Linked DNA regions of Homo sapiens: all the other regions are reported to be linked to region 1. The links are microRNA targets in miRTarBase. Many come from high-throughput screens and were not tested one by one. Region 1 holds a microRNA gene; each other region holds the end of a gene's coding sequence.

Evidence for each region. Region 1 holds the annotated microRNA hsa-miR-219a-1-3p (AGAGUUGAGUCUGGACGUCCCG, at 1,258-1,279, opposite strand). A microRNA usually pairs through its seed, bases 2 to 8, with sites in the 3' UTR of a target mRNA and lowers its output. Matches are read on the target gene's strand: a 7mer-m8 pairs with bases 2 to 8, a 7mer-A1 pairs with bases 2 to 7 and ends in A, and an 8mer does both.
Region 2: miRTarBase lists STARD13 as a target of hsa-miR-219a-1-3p. Seed matches in the 3' UTR shown: 7mer-m8 at 2,755-2,761.
Region 3: miRTarBase lists HSPA6 as a target of hsa-miR-219a-1-3p. The part of its 3' UTR that is shown has no 7-base or 8-base seed match.

The regions. Positions count from the first base shown.
Region 1 is chr6:33,205,175-33,209,174 of GRCh38, reverse strand. MIR219A1 (microRNA 219a-1) reads right to left here and starts at 1,340; the gene lies at 1,231-1,340. HSD17B8 (hydroxysteroid 17-beta dehydrogenase 8) reads right to left here. Exons shown (of 9, transcript NM_014234.5): 3 at 3,838-3,954; 4 at 3,636-3,728; 5 at 3,450-3,535; 6 at 3,263-3,347; 7 at 2,999-3,041; 8 at 2,726-2,800; 9 at 2,344-2,537. The coding sequence ends at 2,521. It overlaps RING1 (ring finger protein 1), which reads right to left and starts at 675. Exons shown (of 7, transcript NM_002931.4): 1 at 531-675; 2 at 275-410. The coding sequence starts at 352. RefSeq lists enhancers at 2,927-3,807, 3,808-4,000.
Region 2 is chr13:33,101,812-33,105,811 of GRCh38, forward strand. It overlaps STARD13 (StAR related lipid transfer domain containing 13), which reads right to left. Exons shown (of 14, transcript NM_178006.4): 14 at 1,326-3,899. The coding sequence ends at 3,782. Among named protein-coding and RNA genes, the nearest start is that of KL, 87 kb to the left of the region's middle.
Region 3 is chr1:161,525,925-161,529,924 of GRCh38, forward strand. HSPA6 (heat shock protein family A (Hsp70) member 6) reads left to right here. Exons shown (of 1, transcript NM_002155.5): 1 at 1-970. The coding sequence ends at 666. Among named protein-coding and RNA genes, the nearest start is that of TRL-CAG1-6, 2.5 kb to the right of the region's middle.

The sequences.
Region 1 (4,000 bases):
GACTTATGACACTGAATGAGGAACAGGGAAGGTAATTTTTGTGTTTGTGATCTTTCAAATGAAGATAATAATACTTGTTCCACCTCTCTGGCAGGGCTGTTTTGAGGATTAAATGAGCTAAATGCGAAAGTGCTTTGGAAAGATTAAGGTGATTCAAAGGTAGGGCCAGGCAAGGCAGAATAGAGCAAATTACGGAAAAGAAGCTGTGTGATGCGGTCTGTGGATATAAGGGTTTGGGGGAGGGGGTAAGCCTGAAAGGGAGAATGCCTGTCACCTGCGGGGTCCGGTGCAGCTCATACAGACTCAGTTCCCACGTTTTGCTGGCATTCTGGGCATTCGCCGGCGTCGTCATGGTGACCGGGCGCAGACCCCCCACCAGGGCTCCACAGCCGAGGAGAAGGCGAAGAAGGCTGGGGGTGGGGGGAAGGGGAGGAGGGCGTCAGGGGGGCCGCCCCTCGCGTAGACCCCGCCCCTCCAGAAGCGCCCCTCTCCGCCCCCGCTCCCGCCCCCGCGCCGGCACTGCCCCTCACCCAGCTCCAGCCGTTCGCGCTCCCGCCGCCGCCGCGCCTCTCCCTAGGCCCGGGCTCCTGGGCCAAGTTCGCTCGGTCCGCAACCGCTGCTCAGACAGCAGCTCCCGCCACCGCCGCCGCCATGGCCCGGGCGCTGGGGCCCTACGTCACTTCCGCCTGCTCCTCCGCTACACCCGCTCCCCCCGCCGGCGGAGACGTCACCCACCATTCGCGGCGCGGGTGGGACGGGACGTGGACGCCGCGGTTCTCCCGCCCACGGGACGGGCTCGTCCCGCGTGAGGATCCTGCGTCCCGGGAGTTCTGCGCCACTTAGGGAACCACGGTCTCCGCCCCCGGCCCAGCACCGTCGCGCGGCCAACAACCTTAGCCTCGGTTCCCTTCCAGAGGCCCCCACGCGGGGCCTCAGCTCCGGGGGGCCGGGGCCTGGAATATCTGGGACCCCAGGAGGGGACAGAGGGCTCGTGAAAAGGGCTACCTCCCCCACTCTGCGTACCCTGGCGACTCTGGGGATCAACCCCCCTCACTTCTCCGTAACCCCCATTCCAGGATCCCGGGGGAAAAGGCTGCAAAAGATCTGCCGCTTTAGCCTTCTAGTCCTGAGAACACACCTAGGTCCCGATGTGCCCGGGATTCCCCTTACCACCCTGGGGACTCCCTCCACCCTCTGCTTTGGCTCTCCCTAGACCCTCCGACCCGCTCTCCCGCTCGAGGTTTGGGGGCGGCGGCTCGGGACGTCCAGACTCAACTCTCGGCCGGAGCCATAGACTCGAGAATTGCGTTTGGACAATCAGGAGCCGCGGCCCGGGGCGGGGAAGGGAGGGAGGCGCACGGGAGGAAAGGGGGAATGGAGACACCACGCGGAAACAGGGACATACACAAGATGGAGCTCCCATTGGGAAGGGGGGGTGCGCGTGTGGGTGGGGTACACAGGGGCAGAATGTCTGGAGTGGGAAGTGGGCAGAAGCCTCTTCGAGGACTCTAGAGTAAACGAAGGGGATGGGGAGGAAAGAGAAGAGGAAGGGGCAGAGCGATCCCCATTGAGTGTAGGGAATGAGAGGGATACAGGGCGAGGGGGTGGGGGGCAGTTAGAGACCCTGATGGGCATCTTGTCCCCGCCCGAGCTGAGGCTCCCGGACTTGGGCTGCGGCTGCCAGGGGGTGGCCTGTCCCTGGGACAAGGCAGCAGTGGGTGCCCTCGCCCCCCACCCCAGTTCCCCCCTACTTCCCTGTCCTCTCCTTCAGTCCGTGGCCAGTCCTTATGTGGGCGCCAGAGTCGATTAGCGCAGACCCCCCTCCCCTTCCTCCTCCTCTTCCCAGCCCCCTCCCTCCTGCTCTCTCCAGCCCCTTTCATCGGCTGGTTCATTCCCCTAATCCTGGCCCCCTCCCCTAATCCCCCCCATCCGACCCCAGGCCGGCTGCAGCTATTGTAAGGTGGAGAGAAAGGGGAGGGGGGGACTCAGAGAAAGGAGAGGGGTGGGGGAGGGCCACCTGTTCCAAGACCCCCTTTCAAGGCCAGACTGGACACCAAGATGGGGCCATGAACAAATCACCCTTGGGGACCATAAGAACCCAGGGAGTTGGGGGGAGGGGACTGGTGCTGCAGAACCAGTGGAAAGGGGTGACGCACGAACCCCTCCCTTCAAAAAGACCCGGAGTGTCACGCATACACAGTGACACATACTCTTTCCTCTCACACCCGGCGGCGGGGGTTGCCCTGGGAGACCAGGCAGAGAAAGGGAACAATCCTTCGGGAAAGGGAAAGGAGGGGGAGGTGGGGAAGGGTCTGAGGGCTTGGACACAAGAAGAGCCGGAGGTGGCAGGGAAGAGGACTTGGAATTTATTAGGGTCACAAGCACCCCTGCTTCCCATATTCAGCATTCCTGAACCATACACTGCCACCCCTTTTGTATCCTGGGAACTTAGAGTCCTCATCAGCAGGAGGCCAGGCAGAGTGGTGGGGGGGTGAGCAGAGTCCAGGGTCCTTGAGGCAGTTACATGAAAAGACCTCCTGGGAGGGGCAGAAACATTTGGACAGATGCATGGGTGGAGACACAAATGGGCTAGGGGGTACCCACTTCTGTCCCTGGCCTTGGGAACCTCTGCCCTTCCCAGTGGCTCCAGACTCCCCTTACTTGCTTTCTCATATAGTCTGGGTTCTACTTCTCTGCCCTCTCCCTCCCCATGCTGGCCTCATACCAGTGACTTCCACTGAGGTCCCTGTGATGTATCCACTATCTTCAGATGCCAAGAATGCGACCACATCTGCCACATCTATGAGAATGGTGGGGAGAGGGCAGAATTCTGCTCACTCCCATAGACCCAAAACAGCCATAATCTCCCACCAAAGACATCCCTCCCCACAAACCTCTCCACAGACACCAACCACCAGTCCCCTAGAAAATCCCCAAACTTTGGGGATCTCTTCATTCAGGCCCCCTTCCCAGGGACCCCACTACATTCAGTGCTCACCCTCAGGGTCCCCCAAGTGTCCCATCGGGATCATTTCAGTAATCTGTAAGGAAATACTCATGTGGGTGAAAGCTTCTTTTATGGATTTTTTTGAAGACTGAGTCTGTGACCCTTTTTTGTCTTCATTTCTCATACATTCATTGAATATTTAATGTTTGCCAGGAACTGTGCCCAGTATTCTCTCTCTCTCTCTCTCTCTCTCTCTGTGAAGCCCAGAGAGATTGAGTCTCTGAATGATTCTGCCCTCCACCCACAGCCTCCTACCTTGTCCACCACTTTCTGTGGCACTTTCTGTGTCATGGGTGTTGCAATGAACCCTGGGAGGACAGAGTTACAGCGGATCCCATGTCTGTGGGAAGGAGAGTGGCTGCCGATTCTGGAGAGGGCTGAATGCTGGTACCTCCCTCAGACCCCCCAGGTGCTCCCCAGCACCCTCAAGCATCTGACCAACCGTCCAAGCTCCCGGGCTGCGGTCTGGGTCAGCCCAATCACTCCAGCCTTGGATGCTGCATAGTTTGTCTGCCCCACGTTCCCCACCTATAGGTGAGTCAGAGATGTGGAATGAGTCAGGAGTCTCAAGGAGGGGTTCTCCTCTCTATACCACTTGGCTGGCTGACCTCGTCCAACTCAACCTGACCTTTCCTACGATGCTACTGATGTTGATGATGGAACCACGACAACCATTGGACACCAGGGCTTGTGCTGCAGCCTGAGTGACTAGGAAGGTGCCCTGGCGGGAAAGGGTAACAAGGGAGAAAAGATCAGCTGGGGTGACAGCCCTCCTCCAACTCCCTCCCCAGGCTAAGGGGGCCAAACGTCGCAGGTTCAGAGATCGCCACCTTGAGGTTGACAGCTATGACTTTGTCCCAGTCATCCTCAGACATGTGCAGCAGAAACTCATCCTGGGTGATGCCCGCACAGGACACAACGACAGATGGTGGGCGAGAAAAGCAGGCCTATGGGAGGGGGAGGTTACGCATCAAAAACCCCCCACAAAAAGCC
Region 2 (4,000 bases), not on the chromosome of region 1:
AAGTTTTCTGCAGAGATACAATATTGCTGGGAATTTTGAGCCTCAGCTGTGCACCAGAAGGATATAAACTAGGTGACATCTAGGAGGCTGAAGAGTGGGATTATTAAAATGAAAGTAAACACTGTCTTTAAGAAAAACTACAAGGGATATAGTCTGCCTATGGAATGTCAAAAATTGTACATCATCAGTTGTTTAAACTTCATGACTTTGCAACATTCCAGTGTCACAAGGTCAGGTGTTTATTCACTGCTTGTGCAGTCAGCACACATTGACTTTGCGTTCGTATCAGAATGTGACACTCCATTTGGTTGGGGTCTGTTTTAAACCTTTACATTTATCTTCCTGAGAAGGAACCATATGTCCAGTTTTTCTGTAACCAAATATCAAAAGACACAGGTGGAACAATTTTATGTCTAAGAATTTCATGAAGAGTGTTTGGAATAATGTAAAAAACTTTTCTTTCCTTTTCAAAGTTCTTTTAGTTGACAAATAATAATTGTACATATTTGTGGGGTACATAGTCACTGCATGTTTTGATACATATATGGTGATGAGATCAGAGTAATTAGCAAGAATCACCTTTGAATTCATATGATCCATACTCTCAGGACATCTGTAGCCTGCGGCTGCTAGAATGACCATCACATTCTTTTCCTTCATGTAGAAGAGAAAAAGCGCCATTGAATTCCCCCTTTGCCTACTATGAAAGCAAAACTTGCAAGTAAGAGGGGAAGGTGTGCATGAGATAAGAGAGCAGAGTTGGGACAACTTTTGTAGGGGCATACAGTCTTCTGGGCTTCTGTGGCTTTGGAAGCCTGTGCCTGAGAATGTTTGAGAGCCCCGGCTTTCTTAAGGGCTCTCTGGGCTGATATTTAGAAGAGATGCTCAGATTTCAAGGGTAGAAGGGAAGAGATTTAGAGTCATTTGTGGCTACTTTTCATGGTCTAGTAGTGCGGCTGTAAGTCATTTCATCATATCTTGATTTCTTGTCCACTTAACAAAAATAAAATGTAGCTAAAGAGTTTACTAAACCTTTGATAAAAATATTATGAATATGAAAAAAATTATGAATTATAACTTCTAGATTTAAGGACAATGAAATTTAAGAAAAAAAAATCCCCACCCATCACTTTAATCCCTTAGATCCAGGTTAAGGCACCCAGCCTGATAGTGAATGTCTGTTGACAACAACTTCTTTGTATTTGAAGACAGTATTGACTACAGATGGTACCAAGGAGTCAAAGTCATGGCAGGCTATCTTGGGAGAAATCTTCCTCATGAAGCAAATTTTCCATTTAAAGATGAAGCATGAAAATCAACATCTATTTTATAGAAAATAGGAAATATTTAATATATATAAATTTATTTGCCTTGGCAATTATTTATTTACAATTGATGATTGATATCAACAATTGAGGTAAAAATATACATGAGGTATAAATATAATATTTAAATGCAATATCATACTTTATTTCCATTGGCAAGATAACAATGAATAAAATACTGTGGTATTTGACAAACAAGCTTGATGCATCGTTTTTTCTCCTTTTTTTCCCTTTTCCTTGTTTTAAAAAGATGCACTGTGTTGTTATGCAGCGGTGATATGATTACTATGTGCACAAAAACAAAAAAGTCAGATAATTCGAAGAGAGGGAGAATCAGAAATACAATCACATTTGTTCTTATTCTGTTTTAGGGATCTTCTAGGTCCTCGTTTCTGAGTGTGGTTTTAGGCCAGCAGCATAGGCATCCCTGAGACTCCTTAGAAATGCAGAATCTCAGGCCCAGCCCAGATTACTTGGAGCAGAGTCTGCAGTTTCACAAGATCCCCAGGCAATTCATGTGCATGTGAAATCTGGACAAGCACCTCTCTGGGCGATACAAAGCCACTCATCCTCGTGTGCCTATCACGTTTTCCAAACACATAGGATCCCATCTCAGGAGCAGGACCAGTGTTTAGCTAGATTAAACTTCACTGGTGATCTTGTTGATGCATATAAAGTAATCTGGCATATATGGTTAAATTCAAGATGTTATGGCAGAAGTGACTTTGTTTTGCTCACAAAGCATTGCCCAAAAGGTAAATTATGGATTTACTGCTTCCTTCTTAGGTAGATATGGGAATGAAAAATTTCTAGGTCATAATTCAAACTGTAAGATTTTCCTCGCACCATACCAAACTCATAGAAAGCTTTTTTATTCCTCTCAATAAAATAATTGCACATTGCTGATAACAGAAACATTACATAAATGCATATAATGCAAAAAAACCTGAAAACACTCATTTGCTTTTCTTTTTTTCTCCAACACCAGTTGCTAAATCTTATCAATCTCTATTATGGATGACCAAAGAAAATCTCTCTCCCTGAAATCAAACACACAATAAGTTATCTTTCTCTCTATAGCTGTTGAATTACAATAAAAAGCACATTCGATCCATTAGCAGTTGGCTAAAGGGAGTCAATTCGCTTCATCTGTACAATAATAAATAAGGTTGGGTCAAATGCATAGGTAGCTTGGACTGGCTAGTGAAGAAACACAGAAGAATTAATAAACCCGATTATACTATCTAAAACTAATCAAAGAACATAGTTTTGGTCTCATGTTAGTTAAAAACCCTGTCTTTCAGATTGTAAAAGTTTAATGAATTACATTTTAAGAGTATCCTACACATAACAAAATATGAATTCCCTGAAGCTGTAACGATCTAGGATTTGAACGGAATGGCCATCATCTCCCTTTGTATGGTGTCTGGAGTTGAATTCAGTGCAATAAGAAAACACCAATTAACTGTGACCAAATAGGCCACTGGTCAAATAGAATGACATTTAATAACATTATGAAATGTATTTATAAAAACTTGAGACAACACAGGGGCTCCCTTTGGCTGTGAAGAAGTAAAGGCTATGATATTCATCTTGACTTGGGGTCTGTAGTGATGGGCATGGGAGCGAGAGGTATCGCTTCTGTTTCAGTCACTCTCGCTGACTCCGGTGGTCCATATCTCACTGAAATTCCATCTTACTGGGCCCAGTGGCAACTCCTCATCTAGCTTTAAATTTGGTAATGACTTCTCACCCCCCCATTTGCTTTAAGGAGGAGTAATTATTATTTCCTTGCTTTATCCCAGATCTCCACTCTCAGTTTTTGAATAGCAGAAACAAAGCGTTAACACATAAGTCTCCTTTAATGTTATTTTCCTTTGGTTAACTCATCTTTGGTTAGGCATCAGGGCATGTTCACACCTTGGTGTTAGCAGCAGGTTCTGCACAGCTTACAGGACAGTGGAGAGATGGGGCCCAGAGCCACTTGGAAAGAACTGTGTGAGGAAGGGACTCACTGAGTCAGACACCGTCATTTTCAAAACACACAATTCTATATAAAATTGGTATTTTACATATATACAGTAAAGATGGAGATATACACACATATGTACATATGCTATACATACATTTATTTACAGTTAGGTATACGCTTCTTAGAAGCCTTTAAATAGCAAATTAGGCAATGCACAAGGAATAGTCCATTTAATTTTAAGTAATATATATAAAGTTCTCATTTTAAAATTATATTAGTAGGGATGTAGCCATCTCCAGGAAGGCTAAGAAAGTTCTTGGAAATTCTTGCATCTCCAACATTCCAACTTCTTAACGTTTCCATTTTTAGGCATTAACCGCGTCCTTCAGTTCCTCTTTCTCTCGCTTTCTCACATGCACACTCTCTGCCACACTCGTCACTTTAGCTTCCTCTTCCCTGAGTTTGATGTCACACTGGGCAAAACTCAGATTTTAGTTTCTGGGCCCTCAGCAATGAGGGGCTGGAAAGAGTTTCTAATCCTGGCAACTTCTGCTGCACACAGATGTCCAAAGCCTTTGCTGTACCATTCTGGGGAGTGACCTCTGTGGGGAAAGAAATCAGAAAGGAAGTGGGAAAGTTTGTTTCCAAATCACAGCAATTAGTTTTGGTGGACAGGGCTGCCCTTGGGCCCCGATGACCAGTG
Region 3 (4,000 bases), not on the chromosome of region 1:
CCCACCAAGCAGACCCAGACTTTCACCACCTACTCGGACAACCAGCCTGGGGTCTTCATCCAGGTGTATGAGGGTGAGAGGGCCATGACCAAGGACAACAACCTGCTGGGGCGTTTTGAACTCAGTGGCATCCCTCCTGCCCCACGTGGAGTCCCCCAGATAGAGGTGACTTTTGACATTGATGCTAATGGCATCCTGAGCGTGACAGCCACTGACAGGAGCACAGGTAAGGCTAACAAGATCACCATCACCAATGACAAGGGCCGGCTGAGCAAGGAGGAGGTGGAGAGGATGGTTCATGAAGCCGAGCAGTACAAGGCTGAGGATGAGGCCCAGAGGGACAGAGTGGCTGCCAAAAACTCGCTGGAGGCCCATGTCTTCCATGTGAAAGGTTCTTTGCAAGAGGAAAGCCTTAGGGACAAGATTCCCGAAGAGGACAGGCGCAAAATGCAAGACAAGTGTCGGGAAGTCCTTGCCTGGCTGGAGCACAACCAGCTGGCAGAGAAGGAGGAGTATGAGCATCAGAAGAGGGAGCTGGAGCAAATCTGTCGCCCCATCTTCTCCAGGCTCTATGGGGGGCCTGGTGTCCCTGGGGGCAGCAGTTGTGGCACTCAAGCCCGCCAGGGGGACCCCAGCACCGGCCCCATCATTGAGGAGGTTGATTGAATGGCCCTTCGTGATAAGTCAGCTGTGACTGTCAGGGCTATGCTATGGGCCTTCTAGACTGTCTTCTATGATCCTGCCCTTCAGAGATGAACTTTCCCTCCAAAGCTAGAACTTTCTTCCCAGGATAACTGAAGTCTTTTGACTTTTTGCGGGGAGGGCGGTTCATCCTCTTCTGCTTCAAATAAAAAGTCATTAATTTATTAAAACTTGTGTGGCACTTTAACATTGCTTTCACCTATATTTTGTGTACTTTGTTACTTGCATGTATGAATTTTGTTATGTAAAATATAGTTATAGACCTAAATAAGCTTTTAAAACTCCTTCTTGTTTTTCATTCCAACCAATCGAAGTACAAAAGTACCCAAAGGCTTTCAGAAGCAGAAAATGTTGGGGTGGGTGCTGAAGGAGGAATGTGAAGAATATTCCTGAGACCGTGTACATGATTCCTATAGGGGAAGGCAGGATTTGGAAAAGAATTTGAGGCCAATACATTGGAACAGTACTGAAGAGTTAGGGCTGGTAAAGAGGAGAGGATTGAGACTTACAATGCAGGAAGAGAGAGGGAGAGATGTGGAATTGGAAAAGCAGAGAATGAAGAGAAACTTAAGTACTGGCAGTGTTTCCATGTGTGATCCTATGATTCAAATTCTGTATTTTTGTCATAGGAACCTGGTTGAGTTTGTCAGTCTAGCTGTTTTAATAACACTAACAAATAGTTTACATGCTTATTAGCTGTTTGTAATCATGTCACTTTATCCATTGTTCTTTTAGAGAAAAGACTCTGAGTCCTGGACTCTGGAGGATGGTATATGTCAGAGGAAGTAGATCTGGTGGTACGATTAAAGTTACTATTGACTTTATCTATGTCAGAGAAATAGTATGATCCCATGTGGTTTCTGCCCATGGCATAATGAGGATGTTGGAACAAGACTCTATAGATTTTCAGCCCTGCCACTTTATATACTGTGCAAATTAAACTCTCCAAGCTTCAGTTTCCCCTTCCCTGCAGTGGGGATGATGATGATGATAACAGTACCAACCTCCAGACTGTTGTGAGGGTTCAATTAATTAATATATGTAAGAGGCAAAGAAGAAAGGTGTATAATATACTATCAACAAACATTAGCAATTACTATTAATTGTTAGTTGGGTGATAACTATGTATCAGGTACTTGACATACACAATCTAACTTAATCTTCACAGCAGCATTATGGAATACTATCTTCTTTTTGAAGATGAGCATTATGAGGTTCAAAGAGGTTAAACAATTTATTCAAAGACACAAAGCTATAAAGTGGGGACAGGAAGGCTGGAATGAAGAACCCTGTCCTGCCTGAGTCTAGAGCCTCAGCATGCCACCTTACAAATAGGCCATAACTCCACTTATTACCAGACCTTCCCCTAGATGTTTTGAAATTGGTCATATTATTCCTTTGAAACACAGCTGGATGCTGAGCCCCGTGAGAAAAAGTGTGCATTTTATTGTATACTTGCAGAGACAGAGTCTTGCTCTGTCGCCTAAGCTGGAGTGCAAAGGTGCGATCTCAACTCACTGCAACCTCTGCCTCCCGGGTTCAACCGATTCTCCTGCCTCAGCCTCCCCAGTAGCTGGGATTACAGTTGCCTGCCATCACACCCAGCTAAGTTTTGTATTTTTAGTAGAGATGGGGTTTCACCATGTTGGTCAAGCTGGTCTCAGACTCGTGACCTCAGGTGATCTGCCCACCTCAGCCTCCCAAAGTGCTGGGATTACAGGTGTGAGCCACCACGCCTAGCTAGTTGTGTGTTTTTTATAGCAAGTGACGGAATCTGCAAAATATCCTTAGGCACAACTTTACTGCCAGTTGAGTCAATGACAATATAAAAGCAAGGATATTTGCCTTTGCTTTGTTGGTGTAAACAAAATAATCAAAAGGATAAACTTGTGTTAGTTCCCAGTCAATCCAATCCAGAGTATATTTGCCCTATGGGCATTGGGAGATTTATTTTTATCTCAGAAATTATGGGAGAGCTTGGCTAGAACAATGCTACATTATACATTATATTTCTTAGGTTGATTTTTTAAAGACGGAGAGAAGGTTACACTAACAACTCACTTGTCCCTGGCTGTCATTTCACATTTTTAACTGCCCTCTTTTCCTGGCCCTGGCCCAAGTCTTACGCAGCCTGGCTTCACATGGAAGGAACCTGAAAAAAAAAAAAAAGAGAGAGAGAGATGGAGTAACACGTACATCCTGCATTACATTCTTCCTTTCCTGAATCTCATCTCAATTCTCAACATTGACCCCCCTCAACCTGTTTGAACTTCTCAAGAGGATTGATAGTACTCACTTTTTTATAGTTTCTTAGTATTTTGATAGTATGCCTTTTATCCTTTTAAAAAACCCAACACACACAGAATATAAGAAGAAAGATTTTTATCGTGTTTAGTTGTGACATCTCAGATCCTCCCATTTGAGTGCAATCTATTTTTCTATAGAGAAATATAAACAAACTTTATTTACTTTTAAACGTCTGTTGATCATTTTGGTTTAGTTTCTTTGGGGACTGTTTCTTGTATACTAGGTATCTAAAAATCCTTATATTGTATGTAGTCTTAGTTTGATTATTGTAATCACAACTATGTCACCCAGTTCCAAAGGGGGGGAAAAAAGTTTGAACAAATTAAATCAGAACACATGCCCATTATTAAAAAAATCAATTCTTGGTACAAGCAGTTTCTTGCCCCCTTCCCAGGTCCTACTCCTCACAGGCAACCACTTTCAAGTTGTTGGTTTTTTAAAAGAATTTTTGATTTTGCAATAATTTTAGATGAACAGACAAGTTGCAAAGATACTACATAAAGTCATTACTCTATATCCTTTCTACTTCCCCTAATGTTAAAACCTTACATAACCATGTTATATTTATCAAACCTAAGAAATTGGCATTGGTATAACATTAATGACTAACTGTAGATTTTATTCATGTTACTTTTTTTTTTTTTGGACACAGGGTCTCACTCTGTACGCCAGGCTGGAGTGCAGCCTGGAGTCAGCCGATCTCGGCTCACAAAAACCTCTGCCCCCTGGGCTCAAGAGATTCGCCTCAGGCTCCCGGAGTAGCTGGGACTACAGGCGCGAACCCCGGGTACTTGGGAGGCTGAGGCACGAGAACCGCGTGGACCGGGAAGACGGAGGCTGCAGTGAGCCAAGATTGAGCCACTGTGCTTCAGCCTGGGGTACAGAGTGAGACCCTGTCTAAAAAAAAAAAAAAAAAAAAAAAGGCTGGGGAGCGGGGCAAGGCGGTGGGAGAACCTGATCCTTACCAAAGTTTGACACTACTGCGTTAGCG